Regions from separate parts of the Homo sapiens genome. Here region 1 is linked to region 2. The links come from fine-mapping of genetic effects on gene expression. A gene starts in region 2. The other region holds a variant in brackets. All regions are shown on one strand. Distances are from middle to middle.

Region 1 (11,796 bases), 110 kb after region 2:
CTGAACTTTGGATGCCCTGCCCATCACACACAGCCCCGTCAGTGAAAGATGAGGTCTTATGGGCTCAACTTCTGCCTTAATCAATGGCTGACCACTAAGCAATGCAGACACAGGGGTGTCTCTTAGAAGTCAGACTAAAAATAGCTGGGCGCGGTGGCTCATGCCTGTAATCCTAGCACTTTGGGAAGCCAAGGCAGGTGGATCACCTGAGGTCAGGAGTTTGAGACCAGCCTGGCCAATGTGGTGAAACCCCATCTCTACTAAAAATCCAAAAATTAGCCAGGCGTGATGACTAACACCTGTAATCCCACCTACTTGGGAGGCTGAGGGAGGAGAATCACGTAAACCTGGGAGGCGGAGGTTGCAGTGAGCTGAGATCGCGCCATTGCACTCCAGCCTGGGCAACAAGAGCGAAACTCCGTCTCAAAAAAAAAAAAAAAAAAAAAAAAGACAGCACCGCACTAAGAATAAAAAGCTGAACAGAGGGTGTCAGGTTTCTGGTCTGGCACGCAAGGAGCTCGGCAGTCGCCACTCTATACTAACAACAAGTAAAAAGCTGAACAAACTGAAAAATCAACTCTTCTTAGATGCATAAGAGAAGTGAGGTCACAGGGCAAATCGCTGCCCCCACACTTGGAGAGATGGGCAGGCGAATACAGAGAATCACAACTTACCGGAGCAGCAACCCATGAGCTGAAATGGCCACAGGAACCAGCACCCAGGAAGGGAAACCTAAATTGTAAGTAATGAGCTGCGGGATGGTCAGTGTGCAGGAGCCTGAAAGTCAAAACCTCCAGGGGGCCGGGCACGGTCGTTCACGCCTATAATCCCAACACTTTGGGAGGCCAAGGTAGGAGGATCACTTGAGCCCAGGAGTAGAAGTTTGAGACCAAGCTGGGCAACATAGCAAGACCTTGTCTCTACTGAAAATTAAACTAGCCAGGAGTGGTGGCACGTGCCTGTAGTCCTAGCTACTGAGGAGGGAGGTGGAGGCTGAGGATTGCTGGAGCCCAGGAGTTTGAGGTTGCAGTGAGCTATGATCGCATCGCAGCACTCCAGCCTGGGCAGCAGAGCAAGACCCTGTCTCTGAAAAACAAACAAACAAATAAAACACAAAAAAATCCCAAAAACTCCAGTGGGTTCCAGTCATGGAGTGGGGGCTCCCTTATTTTTGTGAGTTTTACCTCTGGGAGCTCAACCAGGTTCTACAGTAAATATTAGAGAAAAATCCCCTCATGCTTCCTGCAGGGGGAGGGGGAAAGGAACCATTTTGAAACACAGTAACGTACCACATACCATTTTGGGCATATATGGTGGTGGTCCCATGAGATGCTAATATTGGCTGGGCATGGTGGCTCACACCTGTAATCCTAGCACTTCAGAAGGCTGAGGCAGGAGGATTGCTTGAAGCCAGGAGTTCAAGGCCAACATAGTGAGACCCTCATCTCTCAAAAATAAAAATAAAAATTAGAAAATAAAAGATGCTAATATTGTATTTTTACTTTATTATTATTTTTTAGACGAAGTTTCACTCTTATCATCTAGGCTGGAGTACAATGGCGTGATCTCGGCTCACTGCAACCTCCGCCTCCTGGGTTCAAGCAATTCTCCTGCCTCAGCCTCCTGAGTAGCTGGGATTACAGGCGCCTGCCACCATGCCCAGCTAATTTTTGTATTTTTAGTAGAGATAGGGTTTCATCATGTTGGCCAGGCTGGTCTCGAACTCCTGACCTCTGATGATCCACTCTCCTCGGCCTCCCAAAGTGCTGGGATTACAGGCATAAGCCACTGTGCCCGGCCTCACTGTACCTTTTCTATGTTTAGATGCATAAATACTCACCATTGTCTTACAATTGCCTATGGCATTCAATACAGTAACATGCTGTGAGGTTCGTAGCCCAGGAGCAACAGGCTATACCATATACCATACAGCTGTGTAGTAGGCGATACCATCTCGGTTTGTGGAAGTTCACTCTATGATGATTCCACGATGATGAAATCACCTAACGATACATTTCTCAGAATGTATCCCCATCGTTAATCAAGGCATGACTGTAAACAGAGCATTTGGTTTTTCTTAACGAGGTCTACCCTTAGGGGAAACTAATTAACTAGGGTCTAACCTGCTGGGGTTTTATCAGAGCCTGACTGACCTGGGAAAAGAGTAAATATCCAACTTGCTGGCTCTAGCCTTCAACACGGAGCATGGGAAATACCCAACCCCAGCCCATTCTAGCCAGCCTGTCTCACTAAATGGGAAGGCAGGTGAACCAAGAAACATGTGTAAAGTTCACAGGCCAGAGGCACAGGCTCACTGCAAGGCTGACACCTAATCATGGGAACATAGAATACTCCCCCTCCCCCACACCTCACCACCACATCACTCAAGGCCGATGTACAGCTGTTCCTTTTACCCAGTATATCATGTTTGGCTAGCAAGAAAAAAATCACAAGAGGGCCGGGCGCGGTGGCTCACGCCTGTAATCCCAGCACTTTGGGAGGCCGAGGCGGGCGGATCACGAGGTCAGGAGATCGAGACCATCCCGGCTAAAACGGTGAAACCCCGTCTCTACTAAAAATACAAAAAATTAGCCGGGCGTAGTGGCGGGCGCCTGTAGTCCCAGCTACTTGGGAGGCTGAGGCAGGAGAATGGCGTGAACCCGGGAGGCGGAGCTTGCAGTGAGCCGAGATCCCGCCACTGCACTCCAGCCTGGGTGACAGAGCGAGACTCCGTCTCAAAAAAAAAAAAAAAAAAAAAAAAAAAAAAAATCACAAGACATACTACAAGGCAAAAACACAGTTTGAAGAGACAGAGCAAGTATCAAAATCAGGCTGAGATGGCAAGGATGTTGGAACTGTCAGACTAGGAATTTAAAACAACTCTGATTAATATTCTAAGGGATCCAATGGATAAAGTAGACAGGCATGCAAGAGCAGGTGTGCAATGTAGGCAGAGAAATGGAAATTCTAAGAAATGATCAAAAATAAATGCTATGTAACAGAAATGAAGAACGCCTTTAATGGACTTATTAGTAAACTAGACACAGCTGAGGAATCTCTGCATTTGAGGATAGCTCAGTAAAAAATCCCCAAAGTTGAAAAGCAAAGAGAAAAAAGACTAAAAAGCCAACCCCAGAATATTCAAGAACTGTGGGAGAATTATACACATAATGGGAATACCAGGGGAAAAAAAGAGAAAAATGATCAGAAGAAATATTTGAAACAATAATTACTGGGAATTTCCCAAATTAATGTTAGATTCAAAACCACAGATCTAGGAAGCTCAGAGAACACAAGCAGGATAAATGCCAGAAAAACTATACTGAGGCATATCATTGCCAAATGACAGAAAATCAAAGATAAAGAGAAATACTAGCAGGTGTGGTGGCTCACACCTGTAATCCCAGCTACTTGGGAGGCTGAGTGGGGAGAATTGCTTGAGCCCAGGAGTTTGAGACCAGCCTGGGCAACACAGTGAGATCCTATCTCAAAGAAAAAGAAAAAAGAAAAATACTGAAAGAAATCAGGGGAGGGGGCAGGGAACACCTTACCTGTAGGGGAGCAAAGAAAAGAATTACATCCAACTTTTCATCAGAAGCCATGCAAGCAAAAAGTGGGTGAAGTGAAATTGAGAGGGCCAGGCTGGGTGGCTCACGCTTGTAATCCCAGCACTTTGGGAGGCCGAGGCGGGCGGATCACGAGGTCAGGAGATTGAGACCATCCTGGCTAACACGGTGAAACCCTGTCTCTACTAAAAATACAAAAAAAAAATTAGCAGGGCGTGGTGGCAGGCACCTGTAGCCTCCAGCTACTCGGGAGGCTGATGCAGGAGAATGGCGTGAACCCGGGAGGCAGAGCTTGCAGTGAGCGGAGATCGCACCACTGCACTCCAACCTGGGCACCAGAGCAAGACTCCGTCTCAAACAAAAAAAAAAGTATTGAGAGAAAAAAACCCCACCAACTTACAATTCTGTATTCTGTGAAATAATCCTTAAAGCAAAGGAGAAATAAAGAATTTCTCAGAAAGTAAAAGGATGAAAGAAGATATACCATGCAAACAATAACCAAAAGAGAGCTGGAGTGGCTATATTCATATTAGACAAAATAGACTTTAAGCCAAGCAACAATACTAGAAACAAAAAGGGACATTTTGGCTGGACACGGTGGTTCATGCCTGTGATCCCAGCACTTTGGGAGGCCGAGGTGGGCGGATCACCTGAGGTCAGGAGTTCGAGACCAGCCTGGCCAATATGATGAAACCCCATCTCTACTAACAATACAAAAATTAGCCAGGTGTGGTGGCATGCACCTGTAATCCCAGCTACTTGGGAGGTTGAGACAGGAGAATCGCTTGAACCCAGGAGGCAGAGGTTGCAGTGAGCTGAGATCACACCATTGCACTCTAGCCTGGGCAACAAGAGTGAAAACTCTGTCTCAAAAAAAAAAAAAAAAAAAAAAAAAGAGGGACATTTCACAAGAATAAAAGGGTGAATTGTCTGGGCACAGTGGCTCACTCCTGTAATCTCAGCACTTTGGGAAGCTGAGGTGGGAGGATTGCTTCAGACCAGGAATTCAAAACCAGGCTGGCCAACATAGCGAGACCCCATCTCTATTGAAAAAAAAGAAAAAGAATATTTAAAAGGGTCAATATGTGAAGTTGTAACAATTATAATTATATATGTATCAATCAATAGATAATCAAAATATATGAAAAAAATAAGAGTTAAAATGAGAAATAGAACTCAACGAAAATAAGTAGAGATACACATCCTCCTATTTGACCTAACTCATCATTATAGAGCACTCCACTCAATGGTAGCAGAATATACATTCTTTTCAGGCCCACTTAGAACATTCTCTAGGATAAAAAGCAAGTCTCAATAACTATAAAAGGGTGGAAATCACACAAAGTGTGTTTACTGGCCATAATGAAATTATATGAAAAATCAAAAATGGGCCAGGCACAGTGGCTCACGCCTGTAATCCTAGCACTTTGGGAGGCCGAGGCGGGTGGATCACGAGGTCAGGAGATCAAGAACATCCTGGCTAACATGGTGAAACCCCCTCTCTACTCAAAATACAGAAAAATTAGGCATGGTGGAGGGCGCCTGTAGTCCCAGCTACTCGGGAGGCTGAGGCAGGAGAACCGTGTGAACCCGGGAGGCAGAGCTTGCAGTGAGCCGAGATCATGCCACTGCACTCCAGCCTGGGCTACAGAGCCAGACTCCACCTCAAAAAAAAAAAGAAAAAGAAAAAGTGATAGGAAATTTAGGAATTCCACAAATATTTGGAAACTAAACAACACAGGTTTTTTTTGTTTTTTTGTTTTTCCTGAGAAAGGGTCTCCCTTTGTCACCCAAGCTGAAGTGCAGTAATGTGATCATGACTTACTGCAGCCTCAGCCTCCTGAGCTCAAGCAATCCTCCTGCCTCAGTCTCCCAAGTAGCTGGGACTATAGGCATGTGTCACCAGCTAATTTTTAAAATTTTTTTAGAGACAGATAACAACATACTTTTAAATAACCCCAGGTTTAAAGAAGAAATCACAAGAGAAAAGTTTTCTGAAAGGTCACTGTATAGCAGTCTTGTAGTCTTAACAAGGTTAAGTAACTCCTCTTGGCTGGTAAGCAGCTGATCTGGGACTCACACAGAGGTCTGCCCAGCCCAGTGAATAACACTTTGAACACTTACTTCCCTGCAGCTATGAACTGAATGTTCATGTTCCCCCAAAATTCTGAGGATGGCCTCCTGATCCCCAGTGTGATGGTATTAGAAGGTGGGGGCCTTTGGGAAGTAATTAGGTCATGAGGGTGGAGCCCTTGAAACCACCTTTGCACAATGATGACTGAGACAGTGGAAGAGAGCTGACTTAATCGACCCCATCTTGCTTCTAACTTCCAAACTTCCAAGCTGTCCTTTCTTTCTTTCTTTTTTTTTTTTTTTTTTTTTTTTGAGACGGAGTCTTGCTCTGTCGCCTAGACTGGAGTGCAGTGGCGCGATCTTGACTCACCGCAAGCTCTGCCTCTCGGGTTCACATCATTCTCCTGCCTCAGCCTCCCGAGTAGCTGGGACCACAGGCACCCGCCACCACGCCGGGCTAATTTTTTGTATTTTTAGTAGAGATGGGGTTTCACCGTGTTAGCCAGGATGGTCTTGATCTCCTGACCTCGTGATC[C/T]GCCCGCCTCGACCTCCCAAAGTGCTGGTATTACAGGCGTGAGCCACCGTGCCCGGCCCTAACTTCCAAGCTGTCCTTTTCCATTCTTGGGCATAGGCTGAACTAACTTTGGGAGAAACTTAAGTCTAAAACAAAGACCTCAACAGCCCTTTCCCAAAGCAGACCTCCTTCTTGCCTGGGGACTAGATTGCCTTTGTAGAACTAACATTAGCCACAAGATTAGAAATTATGGTTTAGGGGTCATGCAGCAGGCTACAAGATTCTGACCCTCCCTAAACTTCTCCTAAGATCAGTGCTTGAGATATTTTTCAGACCCTGTACTTGCAGACCCTGGCACCACCCAGATTGATAAACTGGCTCATCTGATCTTGTGGCCCCCACCCAGGAACTGGCTCAGCGCAAGAAGACAGCTTTGACTCACTATGATTTCATCTCCGACCAATCAGTACTCCTGGCTCACTGGCCTCCCCCCACCCACCAAGTTGTCCTTAAAAACTCTGATCCCCAAATGCTCAGGGAGACTGATTTGAGTAATAAGAAAACTCCAGTCTCCTGCACAGCTGGCTCTGCATGAATTACTCTTTCTCTATCGCAGTTCCCCTGTCTTGATAAATCTGCTCTGTCTAGGCAGCGGGCAAGGTGAACCGACTGGGTGGTTACCCCCTCATGAATGGGATCAGTGCCCTTGTGAGAAGAGTCACAGAAGTTGCTTCCTCTCTCTGCTCTCCACCATGTGACGATACTGATATAGGAGTTCAGAAATTGTTTAGGCAGATAGTGAGGGTAAGAAAGTCCTCAGTAAGGTTTTTCTGTTAATGGAAAGCAGCCCTAAAATAATTTCTTTTCTAACAAAGAGCAGCCTGTAAAATTGAGCTGCAGACATAGATAAGTAAGCTGGAAGTTTGCATGGGTGAATGCTGGCAGCTGCGTCAATAGGAAAAGGCTACCCGGGGGCCAGGCATGTTCAACATGGCGGCTCCATCTTCCCTTTTCTTTGTCAACCACGTGTACAGTAAGGAACAGACAACATGGTGCCAGCCAGTTAGAGACCCCATCTGCACAATAAAAGATTAGGGTGGGATGGCCAGCTTCTTACCTGCTATCCAAATGTCACACCTGGTCTGACCAATCTCTTGGGCCCTGTGTAAATCAGAGACACTCCCTCCTCCAGCTTTCCTATAAAAACCAGTGCATTTCACCACAAAACCAGAAGACCCACTCAGGCACCCCTTTCTTTCTGCAGGAGAGAGAGAGCTATTCTCTTTTCTCTTTTGCCTATTAAACCTCTGCTCTTTTTTTTTTTCCTTTTTTTCTGAGATGGAGTCTCACTCTGTCACCCAGGCTGGAGGGCAGTGGCTCGATTTTGGCTCACTGCAACCTCTGCCTCTTGGGCTCAAGCAATTCTCCAGCCTCAGTCTCCCGAGTAGCTGGGATCACGGGCGTGCACCATGACGCTGGACTAATTTTTGTATATTTGTAGAGACAGGGTTTCACCATGTTGGCCAGGCTGGTCTTGAATTCCTGACCTCAAGTGATCCACCCACTTCAGCCTCCCAAAGTGCTGGGATTACAGGCATGAGCCACCGCACTCGGCCAATAAACCTCCGCTCTTAAACTCACTCCTTGTGTGTCCATGTCCTCCATTCCCTTGGCAAGAGACAACAAACCTTGGGTATTTACCCCAGACAATGACGCTGCTTCAGTACAATGAGAAGATGGTCACCTGCACACCAGAAAGCGGATACTCTGCAGACACCAGATCTGCTGCCACCTTGATCTTGGACTTACCAGGCTCATGCTTGTAATCCCAGCACTTTGGGAGTCTGAGGCAGGAGAATTGCTTGAGCCCAGGAGTTCAAGACCAGCCTGGGCAACAAGTCAAGACCCCACCTGTACAGAAATTAAAAAAACAATTAGTGGGGTATGGTGGTGTGCACTTGTGGTCCCACCTACTCTGGAGGCTGAGGTAGGAGAATTGGTTGAGCCAGAAAGATTGAGGCTGCAGTGAGCCATGATTGCCCCACTGCACTCCAGCCTGAGTGACAGAGATCGCATCTCTAAATAAATAAATAAATGTTGTTGTTGTAAGCCACCCAGTCTATGGTATTTTTGTTGTAGTCGCCTGAACAGAGTGTAACACCTGTGGAGGCTACGGAGGACTATGTGAGTAAAAAATCCTGCAACGAGATTGTGTTTCTCCTCCTATTCCCACTAATTGGCTCATTAATGAGACACACAAAAAAACACAGACACACAAAAATACATGTGAGGGGCTCAGGAAGCTCTGCTTTCTATAGAAATTCATTGATTCCCCCAAGAAGAAAGCTGGAGGTGACAGAAAAGAATGTAACTTCATATTTAATTTAATGTTCCAATTCACAATTCATAATATTATTCCATTAGAGCCTATCCTTCAAAATGTCTCATATCCAGGAATGAATTATTATTTAACTAGGTGTTCAAACCACACTTCGGAAGGATCCATTCATAATACATCACAATATTCTCAAAACCAGAATGTGGGTCATTGGGTATTTTCTTTGTACTGCTTTTCACTGCAGCAGTGAAAGCCCACGTGCTAAGTGTTGGCATGAAATGTCCTCTGCCAGAAAGAGCCACAGCCTACACTGGGCCCATTTACGGTGTCAGGACTTAGAGATCTGCACTCCAACCTCTTGATTTTCAGAGGAGGAAACAAGCTCAGCAAGTGAAATGGATATATGTACAACAGGAGGCAGTTTTCTGCCTGCTTACGAGCCCAGCTCTGCTGCTGTGTCCCTGTGCAGCAAATCCCTTAGCCTCCCTGTTTCCTCTCTGTGAAATGAGGATGATGAAATCTACCTTGTAGGGCCATCATGAGGAGATGGAGATGATGTATGGAAAGTGCTTGGAAGAGGGCCTGGCCTATGTAAGTGATTAGTTAAGTGTTGTTATTAGCGTGCGGCAGACATGATATTAGGGCTTTGATTCCTGGATTCCCAATCCAGCATCCCGAGCTCTTTCTCTTCCCCTGTGCATCCCAGCTTGTTCTTCCCATCCTTCCTCACCTCAGTTCATCTTCACCCTTCCGGTTGCTCAGTCCCTAAATCTTGAAGCTTTTTCTTTTGCTCCTCACATCTAATCCATCAGCAAATGCTGCTGCCTCTACCCTCAATATACACGTGGAATCCAACCCCATGTCAACACACTGCAGGCTCCTGTCTGGCTCCAGCCACAGTCTAAACCCCTCTCATCTTTCACCTCCCGCCCAGCCTCCTGTTCTGCCTGGGCTGCCTCGCAGTCTCTTTTTCACTCAGCAGCCACAGTGATCCTACTAAAATGTGCAATCCCTTTCTGCTCCTCTTTAAAGCTCTCTAATGAAAAGTTTGGCAGTTCTTAAACCTTCAGCCAGGGCAGATCCTGCAGCAATCGTGGTATCCTGACCCAAGAGGGCTGGGAGAGACTGAAATTTACAAGGAGGAAGTTGGATTTGGGAGCCGAGCTTCCAGAGGCGCAGGCTGCTTCCAGGGCCCTTGGAGCAGCATGGGTCTCTAGCAGGCCTCCCGAGGAAGAGAGTAGAAGCATGGCCCAGGTTCCCAGGCTGAGGGTGAGATCAGGGCTTACCTTTCTCCTCAGCATCTGCTCCTGGGAGTCCAGTATCCTCCCCAGGGGCCACCCTTGTCTCCCTACCCCCAAGGGAAAGAGAAAGGGAAACTGGCCTCATGACAGCCTACAAGGCAGCAGCTGAATCAAAGCCCTTGGCATAAGGTTGCATGGTAAGGACTGGCTCCTCCTGCACCAAGTGCAGGTGAGAGGAGAGCAACAGCAGCATCGGGAAGAACACAGCTTGAGCCACAGAGCACAGACAGCCCAGAACCTTCATCTCAAGGCTGGCAGGGGCGCAGTAACCTTGGAGCTGGGGGAGAGATGGTGTCCGGAATACAGGGAAGAAGAATATTAAGAACCCAGAGAAGAAACCAGAGGTACTAAGAACTTTTTTAATTTTATTTTTTCAAGACGGAGTCTTGCTCTGTCACCCAGGCTGGAGTGCAGTGGCATGATCTCAGCTCACTGCAACCTCCGCTTCCCAGGTTCAAGCAATTCTCCTGCCTCAGCCTCCTGAGTAGCTGGGATTACAGGTGTGCGCCACCACGCCCGGCTAATTTTTGTATTTTTAGTAGAGACGGGGTTTCACCATGTTGGCCAGGCTTGTCTCAAACTCCTTAACTTGTGATCAACCTGCCTCAGCCTCCCAAAGTGCTGGGATTACAGGCATAAGCCACCTCACCTGGCCCAGAACTAAGAATTTTAGATGTTTTTTCTAACTTCTCTAAGGATGTGATGGATTTTGTGACCAGGTTCTCCTCATGTTTCAGTTAGTTATTGCAATATAATAAATCACCTCAAAATTCAGTGGCTTAGGCCAGGCACGGTGGCTCATATCTGTAATCCCATCTCTTTGGGAGGCTGAGGCAAGACATCACTTGAGCCCAGGAGTTCAAGACCAGCCTAGGCAACATAATGAAACCCTTTCTCTACAAAAAATAAAAAACCTTCCTCATTTCACAGACAGGCAAACTGAGCCCAAATGGTTCATCCAGGTTCACATGGCCAGTTAGTGAGGCTGGACCAGATGCCAGGTGTCCTGTGTTTTCTTTGGTATCTGGTTCTTTTTTTTTTTTTTTTAAGACGGAGTCTCACTCTGTCACCTAGGCTGGAGTGCAGTGGCATAATATCAGCTCATTGCAACCTCTGCCTCCCGGGTTCAAGTGATTCTCCTGCCTCAGCCTCCCGAGTAGCTGGGATTACAGGCAACTGCCACCACACCTGGCTAATTTTTGTATATTTAGTAGAGACGGGGGTTCACCATTTTGGCCAGGCTGGTCTTGAACTCCTGACCTCGTGATCCCCCGCCTCAACCTCCCAAAGTGCTGGGATTACAGGCGTGAGCCACCGCACCTGGCCGGTATCAGGTTCTTATTATTACCTGGAGGTTCCTCTGTGCTGCCTCTCTAAACTAGAGATCTCATTCAAGCCCAGGAATGGCTCACAGGAGACTGAGCCAAGAGGTCAGCACTTCCTGATCTGCTCTTGCCAAATGACAGGGTAGCTTGGTGCACAGAGCTGTGCTGGGGAAGGCAGGCCTCCTCACCAGTGAAGGCTGTGGGCACTTAGATATGGAGGAGAGAAGGAGCTAGGTGTAAGTTTGGGTTTTGCCCCCTCCTTGCTCTCTTGCTGAAAGCAAATGCTACCTAACTCAGATCTCAGAGATGCTTCCTATAGGAGGGACAGTAAATACATGCAGTTGGATTTTACAACAGGTCAAGACAAAGTCTGGAGGGGATGGGAGCCTCATACAGTACCTGTGTAACCGCCTGAGGGGTTCACCTCGCCCGCTATCTAGCCAGAGCCAATTCATCAAGACAGGGGAAGTGCAATAGAGAAAGAGTAATTCATGCAGAGCTGGCTGTGCCCCCTACAGTTTTATTATTACTCAGTCAGTCTCCCCAGGCATTTGGGGAACAAAGGTTTTTTTGTTTTTGTTTTTCTTTTTTTGAGACAAAGTCTTGCTCTATCGCCCAGGCTGGAGTTGCAGTGGTGCAATCTCTGCTCACTGCAATCTCTGCCTCCCGCCTCCCAGGT
Region 2 (11,796 bases):
TGAACCTGGGAGTGGGAGGTTGCAGTGAGCTGAGATGGCACCACTGCACTCCAGCCTGGGCAGCAGAGCAAGACTCTATCTAAAAAAAAAAAAAAAAAACATAGGTATAGTTATAATTTGCTACTAGCATACCTATGCATATATTTTCTGGAAACACCTGCTGAAGGAATTAATGAAAAAAAAACTTTCTGTAGCTTGGAATGAGGACTCAGCCTGCAGTTTATCACCAAATTTGGCAATTGACAGTTCTCCTTAGAAGGCACCTAAAAATATTATACCATTTCTGTAACGAATACTCCAGGCCCCTTTATGGTAGACAGTTCAAAACAAGTATGATGGAAGAACATTAGAGTGGTATATTATTTTAAATTTTCTGACATATTTAGAGCAGCTCATACTCAGTTATCTCTAAATCCATTACAGAATTATTAAAATAGTGGTGTGCGCCTATAATCCCAACTCTTTAGAACTCTACATCATCAAGCTTTGTTCTTGTCCTCTGAACTTGGGAGAATCTTTAAATATTTTCTGTAGGTTAATTTCTATTTCAAAATATATCTCTGAGGAAAAAGTTGTTTTTGTCTATAGTCATGCTGGTTACTCTCTTGGCTGAATATCATTTATCATAGACTTTTTTTTTTTTTTGAGACGGAGTCTCACTCTGTTGCCAGGCTGGAGTGCAGTGGTGCGATCTCAGCTCATTGCAACCTCCGCCTCCCAGGTTCAAGCGATTCTCCTATCTCAGCCTCCTGAGTAGCTGGGACTACAGGTATGCGCCACTATCATAGATTTTCAACCCTACATATAAATGCAGGAGTGCATTTCAATGTGGTTTTGGTCAGATTAAGGTCTTAATAATCTAGACTTTTTTCCTTCAAAATCAGAGAATATATTGTAATTCCAATTATTCTGAGTCTTATTGGAAAATGTAAGACCACAAAAAACAAAGCTGACAAACAATATTGAAATTCACACAATATGTGTCACCCATTTCAAATGTTAGGATTAATTTATTTTCTGAGTTTTATCAATCACTATTTTTGCCCATACTAATAAGAAACAAAGTTGATAATAAAGAATTATCAGTTATCTGTTTATATGCTTCTTTTCAGATACCCTTATGAACATTTTCTGTGGAGCTAATTACTCTTTTAAAAGCTTTATTGAGATGTAATTTATGTAACATTAAAATTCACCCCTTTTAAGTGTACAATGGGTTTTTGAGTATATTTACAGTTTTGCCACTATTACCATAATCTAATTTTATCTTATTTGTGATATAATTCACAAAATTATATAACCAGAACCATTATCTAATTCTAGAATACTTTCATCCCTCTAATAAGGAACCTCATACTCATTAGCAGTCACTCCCCATTTCTCCCCAACTCCTTCAGCCCTATGCAATCACTAGTCTACTTTCCGTCTCTATGGAGTTGCCTATTCTTGACTTTTCATGCAAACAGAATCATACAATATGTGGTCTTTGTGACTGGCTCCTCTCACTTGGTATAATGTTTTCAAGGTTCTTTCATGTTATAGCATGTATCATAACTTTATTCCTTGTTTTCTCCTAATAATATTCTATTGTATGATACACCACATGTGGTTTATCCATTCATCAACTGGTGGATATTTGGGTTTCCACTTTTTGGCTATCAAGAATAATGCTGTAGGCCAGGTGCTGTGGCTCATGCCTGTAATCCTAGCATTTTGGGAGGCCGAGGTGGGAGGATCATTTGTGCTCATGAGTTCGAAACCAGCCTGGGCAACATGGCAAAACACCATCTCTACAAAAAAAATTTTTTTAAGCCAGACATGGTGGTGCGCCCCTGTAGTCCTAGCTACTTGGGGGGCTGAGGCAGGGGGAGTGCTTGAGCCCCTGAGGCTGAGGATGCAGTGAGCTGGCGCCACTGCACTCCAGCCTGGATGACAAAGCGAGACTCTGTCTCAAAAAAAAAAAAAAAAAACCCAGAATAATGCTGCTATGAACATTCACAAACAAGATTTTGTGTAGACATGTTTTCATTTCTCTTGAAAATACCTAGAAGTGGAATTACTGGGTCACATGCTAATCACTCTTTAGACCAGTAACAGGATTTTTTTCTACTTTAAAAGGTTTTTGACACAGCCAGAAAGCTGATTTTTCATAAAAATGCAAACATAAAATCCATTTGTTGGTATAATAAGGTCAAGGTGCACAAGTCTTTGCTATCAACAAAAGGTATCATATTTTCCAATTTCAGTTGAAACAGACATTCTAACATTGGTTAAGATCTTAGAATCTTGGAGTTTGTACTAGTGTACTTAATCCATATGCTGGGATAAAATTCTGTTTTTAAGCAGGAAGTATATATCCAACTCCCATGGCTGACAACTGCTTAAGAAATAAGTACACAATAAGGTTAGACTGACACAGCACAAGGAGCAAAAAATAATAATTTAAAATGTTAAGACACCGGGCTGTGCACGGTGGCTCACATCTATGATCCCAGCCCTATGGGAGGCCGAGGCAGGCAGATCACCTGAGATCAGTTCAAGATCAGCCTGGTCAACATGGTGAGACCCTGCCTCTGCCAAAAATACAAAAGTTAGCCAGGCATGGTGGTGCGAGCCTGTAATCCCAGCTACTCCGGAGGCTGAGGCACGATAATCACCTGAACCCGGAGGAGGAGACTGCAGTGAGCCAAGATAGTGCCACTGCACTCCATCCTGAGCAACACAGCGAGACTCCGTCTCAAAAAAATAAAATAGACCAGGCGCGGTGGCTCGCCCCTGTAATCCCAGCACTTTGGGAGGCCGAGACGGGCTGATCGCCTGAGGTCAGAAGTTCGAGACCAGCCTGGTCAACATATAGTGAAACCCCATCTCTACTAAAAAACACAAAAATTAGCTGGGTGTGGTGGCACACACCTGTAGTCCCAGCTACTTGGGAAGCTGAGGCTAGAAGGATCACTTGAAGTCAGGAAGTGGAGCTTGCAGTGAGTCAAGACAGCGCCACTGCACTCCAGCCTGGGCAACAGAGCAAGACTCCATCTCTCAAAATCAATGAATTAATTAAATAAATGAATTAATTAAATAAAATATTAGACACTGGTCACATGCGGTGACTCACATCTGTAATCCCAACACTTTGGGAGACCAATGCGGGTGGCTCGCTTGAGCCCAGGAGTTGCAAGACCAGCCTGGGCAACATGGCGAGACCGCGTCTCTACCAAAAAAAAAAAAAAATATATATATATATATATATATATATGTATTATATATTATAAATGTATATATGTATTATATATTATAAATGTATTATATATTATATAATACATATATATTATATATAATACAAATATATATAAAATATTAGACACCCCGATTAAACTAAATACTCATTTTCTTTCCCTAGGAGGAGTGTGTGTGTATGTGTGTGGTGGGGGGGGGTGGGTGCTGTTTCTCAAAAACATATTTCAAAAATTGGAGGCCAAGTAAGCTTCTGGTCACATTTTTTGGGTTTGTTGTTTTTTCCCAGCAATGAACACTCTAGTTCAAATATACTTCGCAAATTTTGAACAGATAATGAAAAGTTGATTGTAAAATTCTACATATAAAAAGAGCTTTAAAAACACATTTTCATTTTTTAAAAAATCAAACACCTTGTAGCAGATATTAGACATAATCAAGGGAAAACTACCAGCGTCCTACCAATCACAGCCCTAGAGAAAACGCCACAGGTCGTCCAAAAAACGCATTCGTTTGAGCCGACAGCTCTTTCCTCCCGCCAAAGCTATCCCTCGAACGTCAGAAGCTGACCCAAGGAGTGACTGATGATTTCTCCTTTTTGATTCCCCACCCCCGCCACTCCCAATCCACCTGCTTGAAGGTGTCAACGCGACTAGAAACGGTTAACAGTGACCAGCAGCAGAGAGAGAAACAAACATCCCTGACAACCCACAGCTGAGTAAGCAAGAGCTGTTTATTCACCAACGTGTTCCATTTGGAGACTGTCGGCGAGCCCTGGAAAGCCCAGGCACATTTGAGAAGGTTCCTGGAGAGGGAGAGAATCATCTTTCCTTCCCCCAACTCCCCAGCCCCAAACACACAGAGAGACTCGGGTGGAAGCTGTCTGGTCCAGGCAGTCCCTATTTGCCCGCCCCCTCAAGAAGAACCTCACGCACCAAACCAACCGACCCCTCGCGGAGGTGGTGTAATTCCCCCAAAATGGGCTCTGCCGCAGGAGAGGCTGGCTCCAGCGCCGGGGGCTTCGGAAGGAGTTTCTGCCACCCCCACTGCCGCCACTGACCGCCCCGACGCCACGGCCGGGGCCGGGGACCCTGATAAGAAATGGCCCTTCAGCCCCCTCCCCTCACCTGGCTCGGTCCCACCTGAGGGCAAGAGCGGAGGCAAAAACAAACAGGCAGGGAGGGCTGACCTTGTTGCTACCGACAGTGGAGCGGCGCATCCTGCTGCTTCCTGGAAAGCGGCCCGAAAGACATTTTTTCCCCCTGGAGGAAGGAAACGGGAGGGCGCCGGCCAGACGGCGGCAGGCGCGGAGGCGTTGGTCCGGGCGGGCTGTGCAGCCTCTAGTGGAGACGGTCCGAAGACTACATCTCCCAGGCTGCTCTGGGCCGCCCTGCGTCGTAACCCTGGCGCGCACGGAGGCGGCGACTCTTACCTCACAAAGGTAGCTCCTCCGCCGGCAGCAACTCGGCGCCCGCGGTCCATGGACCGGAACCTCGGGCCGACGGACGGGAACCCGGGCCGCGATCGCCGCCTCCCCGCCTCAGGCTCCTCCTCCTCGCTCTCCGCCGCCTCCGCCGGACTCCCGCAGGCCCTGCACCGCCGCCGCCAGGCTAGCGGAGCTGCCCCGGGAAGCTGGGTGACGGGTTCGCGGCTGCCGCCGGACTGCGGCCTACTCCGCCGCCTCTCAGTGCTATTGTCCCTGGGCCTGGCCTTGAGCGGGTCCACTGGGGAAGGCCGTGTGCGCCGGCTCCGCGGAAGATGCCGGACCAAGCCCTACAGCAGATGCTGGACAGGTACGGGCAGCTGTGGGGGGGACCGGGAGCCGCCGACCCTCGCTCTGGCCCTGCCCGCGCCCGCCCTCGAGGCTCTTGGTGAGCAGAACCCGGCGTGCCGGGAGGAGTTCCACGGCCAGGGGGCCGTGAGAGGGGCAAAAAGTTTGGAGTCTAGACCTGGGGGAGGACAGAGCGAGCGGCCTGGGTCGTAGACTTTGGGTGAAACTTAGCTAAGGAGTGGCGTCTGGTTTCCTTGGAACCCCGTTTTGACCTGAGAGGGACTCCTGTTAATCCACAAAATTAGTTTTCCTTACCCTCTTCCCCTCCCCCTTCCCCCTCCCCAACTTGTGAAGTGTTTGTCAGCGATGTCACTGGCAAGAACCGGGTTATCTTTCAGGGGAATGACCCCCTTATAATTTTAAGTCTCTGTCTGAGAACCAATGATAAGCATTCTTTTGGAAAGCCTGATAGGCTGATTTCATTCTCCCACTTTCCCTGAACCCGCACCCCCCGTCCCCCCCGCCCCATCCCGTCCCCACCTCCGAACTGTAAGGTCAGAGTATCCGCAAGGGAGATTTAACGGTCAGACCAGAGTAGAGGTTATGGAAAACAGCCAAATGAGTCCAACGCTGAACATTTAGTGTACTTGACGATCGTTGAGTTCATTGAAGACGTTTCAGCTCGTACAGGAGTCCAGTTGCCCATTCTTGGGGGGCCCCAGTCGGTAAAACTCTTTGTGAAGTCGGGTGCACCGCCCTCTGCTGTTGAAATTCTGGTCCGTGGGTCCTACCATGAGTTTTTGGAGACTCTAGATCCACATTTCCCCCGAGCCAAGTCTTACTTCCTGGCATAGCAAGTTGTACAAGCTAATTCATGATGTTTGTGGTTGCTTACAATTCTCAATAGACACCACTTGCCACCCATTTCAGCAGGTGGTACCAACTCTTTGTACTCAGTAAAATTCCAACTGTAAGGTGTTAAATGAAGGCCCTCCCTTAATTGAGTTTATACCCAGTTAAATGCTTTTGGGCCTGCCACACCCAGAACACAAATGACCCAAGGGTACACATCCTTCCAGAGTGACAGACATTTTTTTGGAGCTTAGAATTTTGAGCCATCTCAGTTAATAGGAATTATGTCACTGATTTTTTTCAGTTGAGATAACTGGTGATTCATCCAGCCCTTGTTTCAGGTCAACATCCTGACAATTGTATTGACTGCTTTATATATATATGTGTGTGATATGTGTGTGGTTTATAAGCTCTTGGAAGCAGAAACTTACTATTGTTTATCTTGAATCCCAGAACAGAGCCTGGTACTCAGTAGGTAATCAGTAAGTATTTGTTGTATGAACTAATGCACAAACTTATTTGTCAGTTTCCCCAGTTGTCTAGGGGGTCTGATAATTTACCAGGTTTTCCTTTCATTGTAAATTGGCAAATTGTGGCAAATTAAAATATGCCCAGAGGAAACCACCTGCCACTGCCAGTTCTATTCTGTTGAGACCCTGTTCTGATGTGGGGTATTTTGTAGTTAATTTTTTTCCTTTGAGGGCCTCCTGCTTTTCATTTTTACATAGTGACTTTTTTTCTTCTTTTTTTGAGACAGGGTCTCTGTTGCCCAGACTGGAATGCAGTGGCAGTGGCAGTGGCATTGGCATGATCTCAACTCACTGCAACCCCCGCCTCCCAGGCTCAGGTGATCCTCCTACCTCAGCCTCCCTAGTAGCTGGGACCACAACACATACCACCATGCCCAGCTAATTTTTTGTATTTTTATAGAGCCAGAGTTTTGCCATGTTGCCTGTGCTGGTCTCAAACTCCTGGGCTCAAGTGATCCTCCCGCCTAGCCTCCCAAAGTGCTGGATTGTCAGGCATGAGCCATCGTGCCCAGCCTAGAAAAGTTCTTATGTCCAAAAGCTGACCTAACTTTTCATATGCTCTTTGGATATTTCCATAAAAGTAAGAAGCCAAAGAGTGAGCCTGGGCACGGTGGCTCACCCTTGTAATCCCAGCACTTTGGGAGGCCAAGGCAGGCAGATCACTAGAGCTCAGGCCTTTGAGACCAGCCTAGCCAACATGGTGAAACCCTGTCTCTACTAAAAAAAAAAAAAAAAATACAAAAATTAGGCAGGCGTAGTGGCGTGGGCCTGTAGTTCCAACTCTCGGGAGGCTGAGGCATGAGAATTGCTTGAACCTGGGAGACGGAGGTTGCAGTGAGCTGAGATCGCACCATTGTACTCCAGCCTGAGTGACAGAGTGGAACTCCATCTCAAAAAAAAAAGCTAGTGAGGCATTTAAAACTTATTAACAGAAATGCGAAGATTCTGGCTGCCATTTACTGAAGTAGGTGACTATGACACTGGCTTACTCTCATCTTTGTACTACTCTCATCTTTGTACTCTTTTGACATACCTTAAGGTAGATTTTTAACATGACTTTCAAAGACCGTTATTGTCTAGATTAGTAGTTGGCAACCTACTTCCATGTTAGAATTACCTGGGGAGCATTTCAGAATATGCATGGATGCTGGACTGTAAGACCAATAAGATCAAAAATTTCTGTAGGGTAGAGCCTGGGCATCTATATTTTAAAGCTTTTTAAATGTTTTAGATATGGCAGAAACCTACTGCCCTAAGTCCTAAGTCAGTGATATCTTTCATGATAAGAGATAGTAGGGTATAGTGAGTAAAGCTTGGGCTCAGAGATAGAAAGTATGAAATTCGAATTTTGCCACTTACTAGCTATGTGACTTTGAACTTAGATTCTGACACTATGTATATTATCATTTATAAAATGAGAACCCTACTTCACAGGGCTACAGCAAATGAAACATACATCTCTATAAAACAGCAAAACACTCTATGTTAGCCAAATAGAAGGCACTTAAGACTAATGTAAACCAGTTTGGCCATTTTTCCCCCATCTACTTTATGTTTACAGCTTTCTTCACCTGGGCTGGCCCTACTGCAAGTTGAACACAAAGATACTCAACATGGTTCACTTGAGGAATACCAACAGGGCCAAGAGACTAAAATATGTCAGCCTATTAGGACCCAGAATTCTTTTCATGAATTTGGCTTCTCCCCAACCTGGTTTTTGGTGGCAATTTTTGAGGGACAGAATTTAGCTCAGATAACTGTTCATTTGTTTATTTCTTTAATGCAGGTTTTATCTTCGTGAAGACTAAGGAACTGTGTGTTACATATTGTTCTGTTGCTTTTAGGTTAAGTTACGTATTTTATTTAGGCCAGGCACAGTAGCTCATGCCTGTAATCCCAGCACTTTGGGAGGCCGAGATGAGAGGATTGCTTGAGCCCAGGAGTTAGACACCAGTGTGGGCAACATGGCAAGACTCAGTCTTTACAAAAATGTTAAAAATTAGGCCAGGCCTGGTGGCACATGCCTGTGGTCCCAAATATTCAGGAAGCTGAGGTGGAAGGATTCCTTGGGGGTCGTGGCTGTAGTGAGCTGTGTTTGTGCCCCTGGGTACTACAGCCCAGGTAACAGAGCAAGACCCTGTCTTAAAAAAAAATGTTATTTTTCAGTAAATCAATTATTAAACATTTACACTTATTGAATTTATTTAACAAATACTGAGTGTCTTCATATGCCCAGTACTATTCTAGGCCCTTGGTATATAGTGGTGAATTGAACATAACAAAAATGCCCTTATGGAGCTTCAATTCCAGGGGTGTTTGTGTTGTCTAAACTGTCAAAGTGAAGACTATTTTAATTGTAATATGAATGGTATGTTCAATTTATACCATTTAATCTTTCAGGGTTTTTAAACTAGAGGCAACTTTTCTTTTTTTTTTTTTTTTTTTTTTTTTGAGGCGAAGTCTCACTCTGTCACTTGGGCCAACTGGTGACAACTTCTTTTATTTATTTATTTATTTATTTTTTATTTTTTTTTTTGAGACAGAGTCTCGCTCAGTCGCCCAGGCTGGAGTGCAGTGGCGCAATCTTGGCTCGCTGCAAACTGTGCCTCTTGGGTTCACGCCATTCTCCTGCCTCAGCCTCCCGAGTGGCTGGGACTACAGGCACCCGCCACTAAGGCCAGCTAATTTTTTTGTATTTTTAGTAGAGACGGGGTTTCACCGTGTTAGCCAGGATGGTCTCGATCTCCTGACGTCGTAATCTGCCGGAATTGACCTCCCACAGTGCTGGGATTACAGGCGTGAGCCACCGTGCCTGGCCTGTGGCAACTTCTTAATAGCTGAAGTTGAATTCCCTTGTCCTTTGCAAATAACTCACTTTAGTTTAGCTATTATTTGTTTATATTGGTAACTTTGATTACTGTAATATTTGTAGGTGGAAAGAATACATATACATACGTATATATATACATACATACATATATATATGGAATTTTTTTTTTTTTCATGGAATTTCGCTCTTGTTGCCCAGGCTGCTGGAGGGCAGTGGCGCGATCTCGGTTCACCACAACCTCCGCCTCTCGGGTTCGCGTGATTCTCCTGCCTTAGCTTCCGGAGTAGCTGGGATTACAGGCATGTGCCACCACGCCTGGCTAATTTTGTATTTTTAGTAGAGACTGGGTATCTCTATGTTGGTCAGGCTGGTCTCGAGCTCCTGACCTCAGGTGATCCACCTACCTCTGCTTCCCAAAGTGCTGGGATTACAGGGGTGAGCCACCACTCCTGACCATATGGATATATATTCTTTGGATTGCCTTTCGTTTTTATAAACTATAAGTGTTTTATGTAAATTTATTATTTGAACCTTTTAAGTTGTTGTGGGGAAACAAGAATGGTGGAAAGGGGGGTGATTTTTCTAGTGTCGTGAATGTTTCAGTGTCACAAATATCATTTCCCTGAAATGATAACCATTCATAAGCCCAAACCCTTTATGTCAGGCCTTTTGAACCTTAGTTAGCTCTTCTGTCTTTCATTGCTTCAATTCTTTAATAAGAAGTTGTTATATATTACTTTCTCTTTGACCACCGACATTCTCATTTTTCTCTAAAACTTCTCAAAGTTAGGAGTGAATTTACAGAGAACAATGCAAAGAATATTATAACAAACTGCAGGAATGGACCTCTGATTTGAAGCCTGGACCTACTGAGAAATGCTTTTGGAAACTACTTCTGCTTCCCCCGTCTTAAAATAAACACGCATTAATTTGTTGAGGTTGTTTTGCATCACTTACTTGCATCTAGTAAATAGGCAAGGAGTGTAGCCAGAATGTCCCCAGAATGGTCAGATGGCAGAAAGAGCAGAGAGAGTGGTCTATTCTTCCAGCCCCCTCCCACAATGGTATAGTGAATTAGAATTCTGCCTCTGTGAGAGTGTTATCCACAGATGTATACCCCTTTGAAGACCAAGGAAGCTATACTCTGATAGGAGCATGCTGTATAAACAATTTCACATTTTCTTTGTCAGTTGACCTCTTTTTCTCAATCACATCACCATGTTGACAATTACAGACCAATGCCCAGAATTAAAAATCATCATCAATTATATTTATTTCCAGATATATGTAAAAAATGGAAACATCATAGATAAAATTAAATCCCCTTTGACCACCATCCCCAATGGCATATCTTCTCATCCCCACTCCACTATCATAAAATGGGTTTATATTCTTCCATCCTTCTTGGTTTAATGCTTTTATATAGAAAAGTATATTAATAGACTACTTTTTTTTTTTTTTTTTTGAGTCAGGGTCTTACTCCATTGCTCAGGCTGGAGTGGAGGGTCACAGTCACGGCTCACTACAGCCTCAACCTCCCAGGCTCAAGTGATCCTCCCACCTCAGCTTCCAGAGTAGCTGGGACTACTGGTGTGCACCACCACACCTAGCTGATTTTTTGTATTTTTTTTGTGGAGATGGAGTTTCACCACGTTGCCCAGGCTGGTCTCAAACTCCTGGGCTCAAGTGATCCGCTCGCCTCGGCCTCCCAAAGCTCCCAAAGTGGGGGACTACAGGTGTGTTCCACCACATCCAGCTTTCAACTTTTTTTTTTTTTTTTTTTTTTTGAGACAGAGTCTCACCCTGCCACCCAAGCTGGAGTGCAATGGCGTGGTCTCGGCTCACTGTTGCAACCTCCACCTCCTGAGTTCAATTGATTCTCCCACCTCAACCTCCCAAGTGGCTGGGACTACAAGCACGTGCCACCACACCCAGCTAATTTTTTGTATTTTTAGTAGAGACAGGGTTTCACTGTGTTGGCCAGACTGGTTCAAACTCCCGACCTCGTGATCCACCTGCCTCGGCCTCCCAAAGTGCTGGGATTTCAGGCATGAGCCGCCACACCTGGCCTTTTTTCTTTTTTAATCCAGTCTCGTTTATGACATTTAGATTCTTATTTTCTCTTTATTATTTTTCCTGATAATTTGACTTTCATTCCCCTTTCTTGTCATTAGCTCTACTGAAAGTGTACTGAAGGGCTGGGTGCAGTGGCTCACACCTGTAATCCCAGCACTTTGGAAGACCGAGGCAGGCCAATCACTTGAGCTCAGGAGTTCAAGACCAGCCTGGCCAACATGGCGAATCCCCATCTCTACAAAAAATACAAACATTAGTAGGGCATAGTGGCACATACCTGTAATCTCAGCTACTCGGGAGGCTGAGGCACAAGAATCGCTTGAACCTGGGAGGCAAAGGTTGCAGTGAGCTGAGATCGTGCCACTGCACGATCTCTCTCTCTATATATGTATATGTATACTAAAGGTCACCAATAATTTCTTAGTAAATATAATGACATTTTCTTCAGGACTTTTTATCCTTCAGAATCACGTTACCTTTTTCTTCCTTCAATTTCTATGTAT

What was found. PIP is the estimated chance that this variant, and not a neighbour inherited with it, causes the effect.
Region 1: its variant is fine-mapped to the expression of MARCHF5 in whole blood (INTERVAL, PIP above 0.99).

The regions. Positions count from the first base shown.
Region 1 is chr10:92,395,804-92,407,599 of GRCh38, forward strand. No RefSeq gene overlaps it. Among named protein-coding and RNA genes, the nearest start is that of MARCHF5, 110 kb to the left of the region's middle. RefSeq lists a silencer at 11,535-11,584. The variant C/T (reference allele first, on the strand shown) is at 6,175.
Region 2 is chr10:92,286,503-92,298,298 of GRCh38, forward strand. It overlaps MARCHF5 (membrane associated ring-CH-type finger 5), which reads left to right and starts at 4,665. Exons shown (of 6, transcript NM_017824.5): 1 at 4,665-5,027. The coding sequence starts at 4,993. It overlaps CPEB3 (cytoplasmic polyadenylation element binding protein 3), which reads right to left and starts at 4,576. Exons shown (of 10, transcript NM_014912.5): 1 at 4,424-4,576. RefSeq lists enhancers at 3,870-4,079, 5,027-5,605 and a silencer at 4,640-4,889.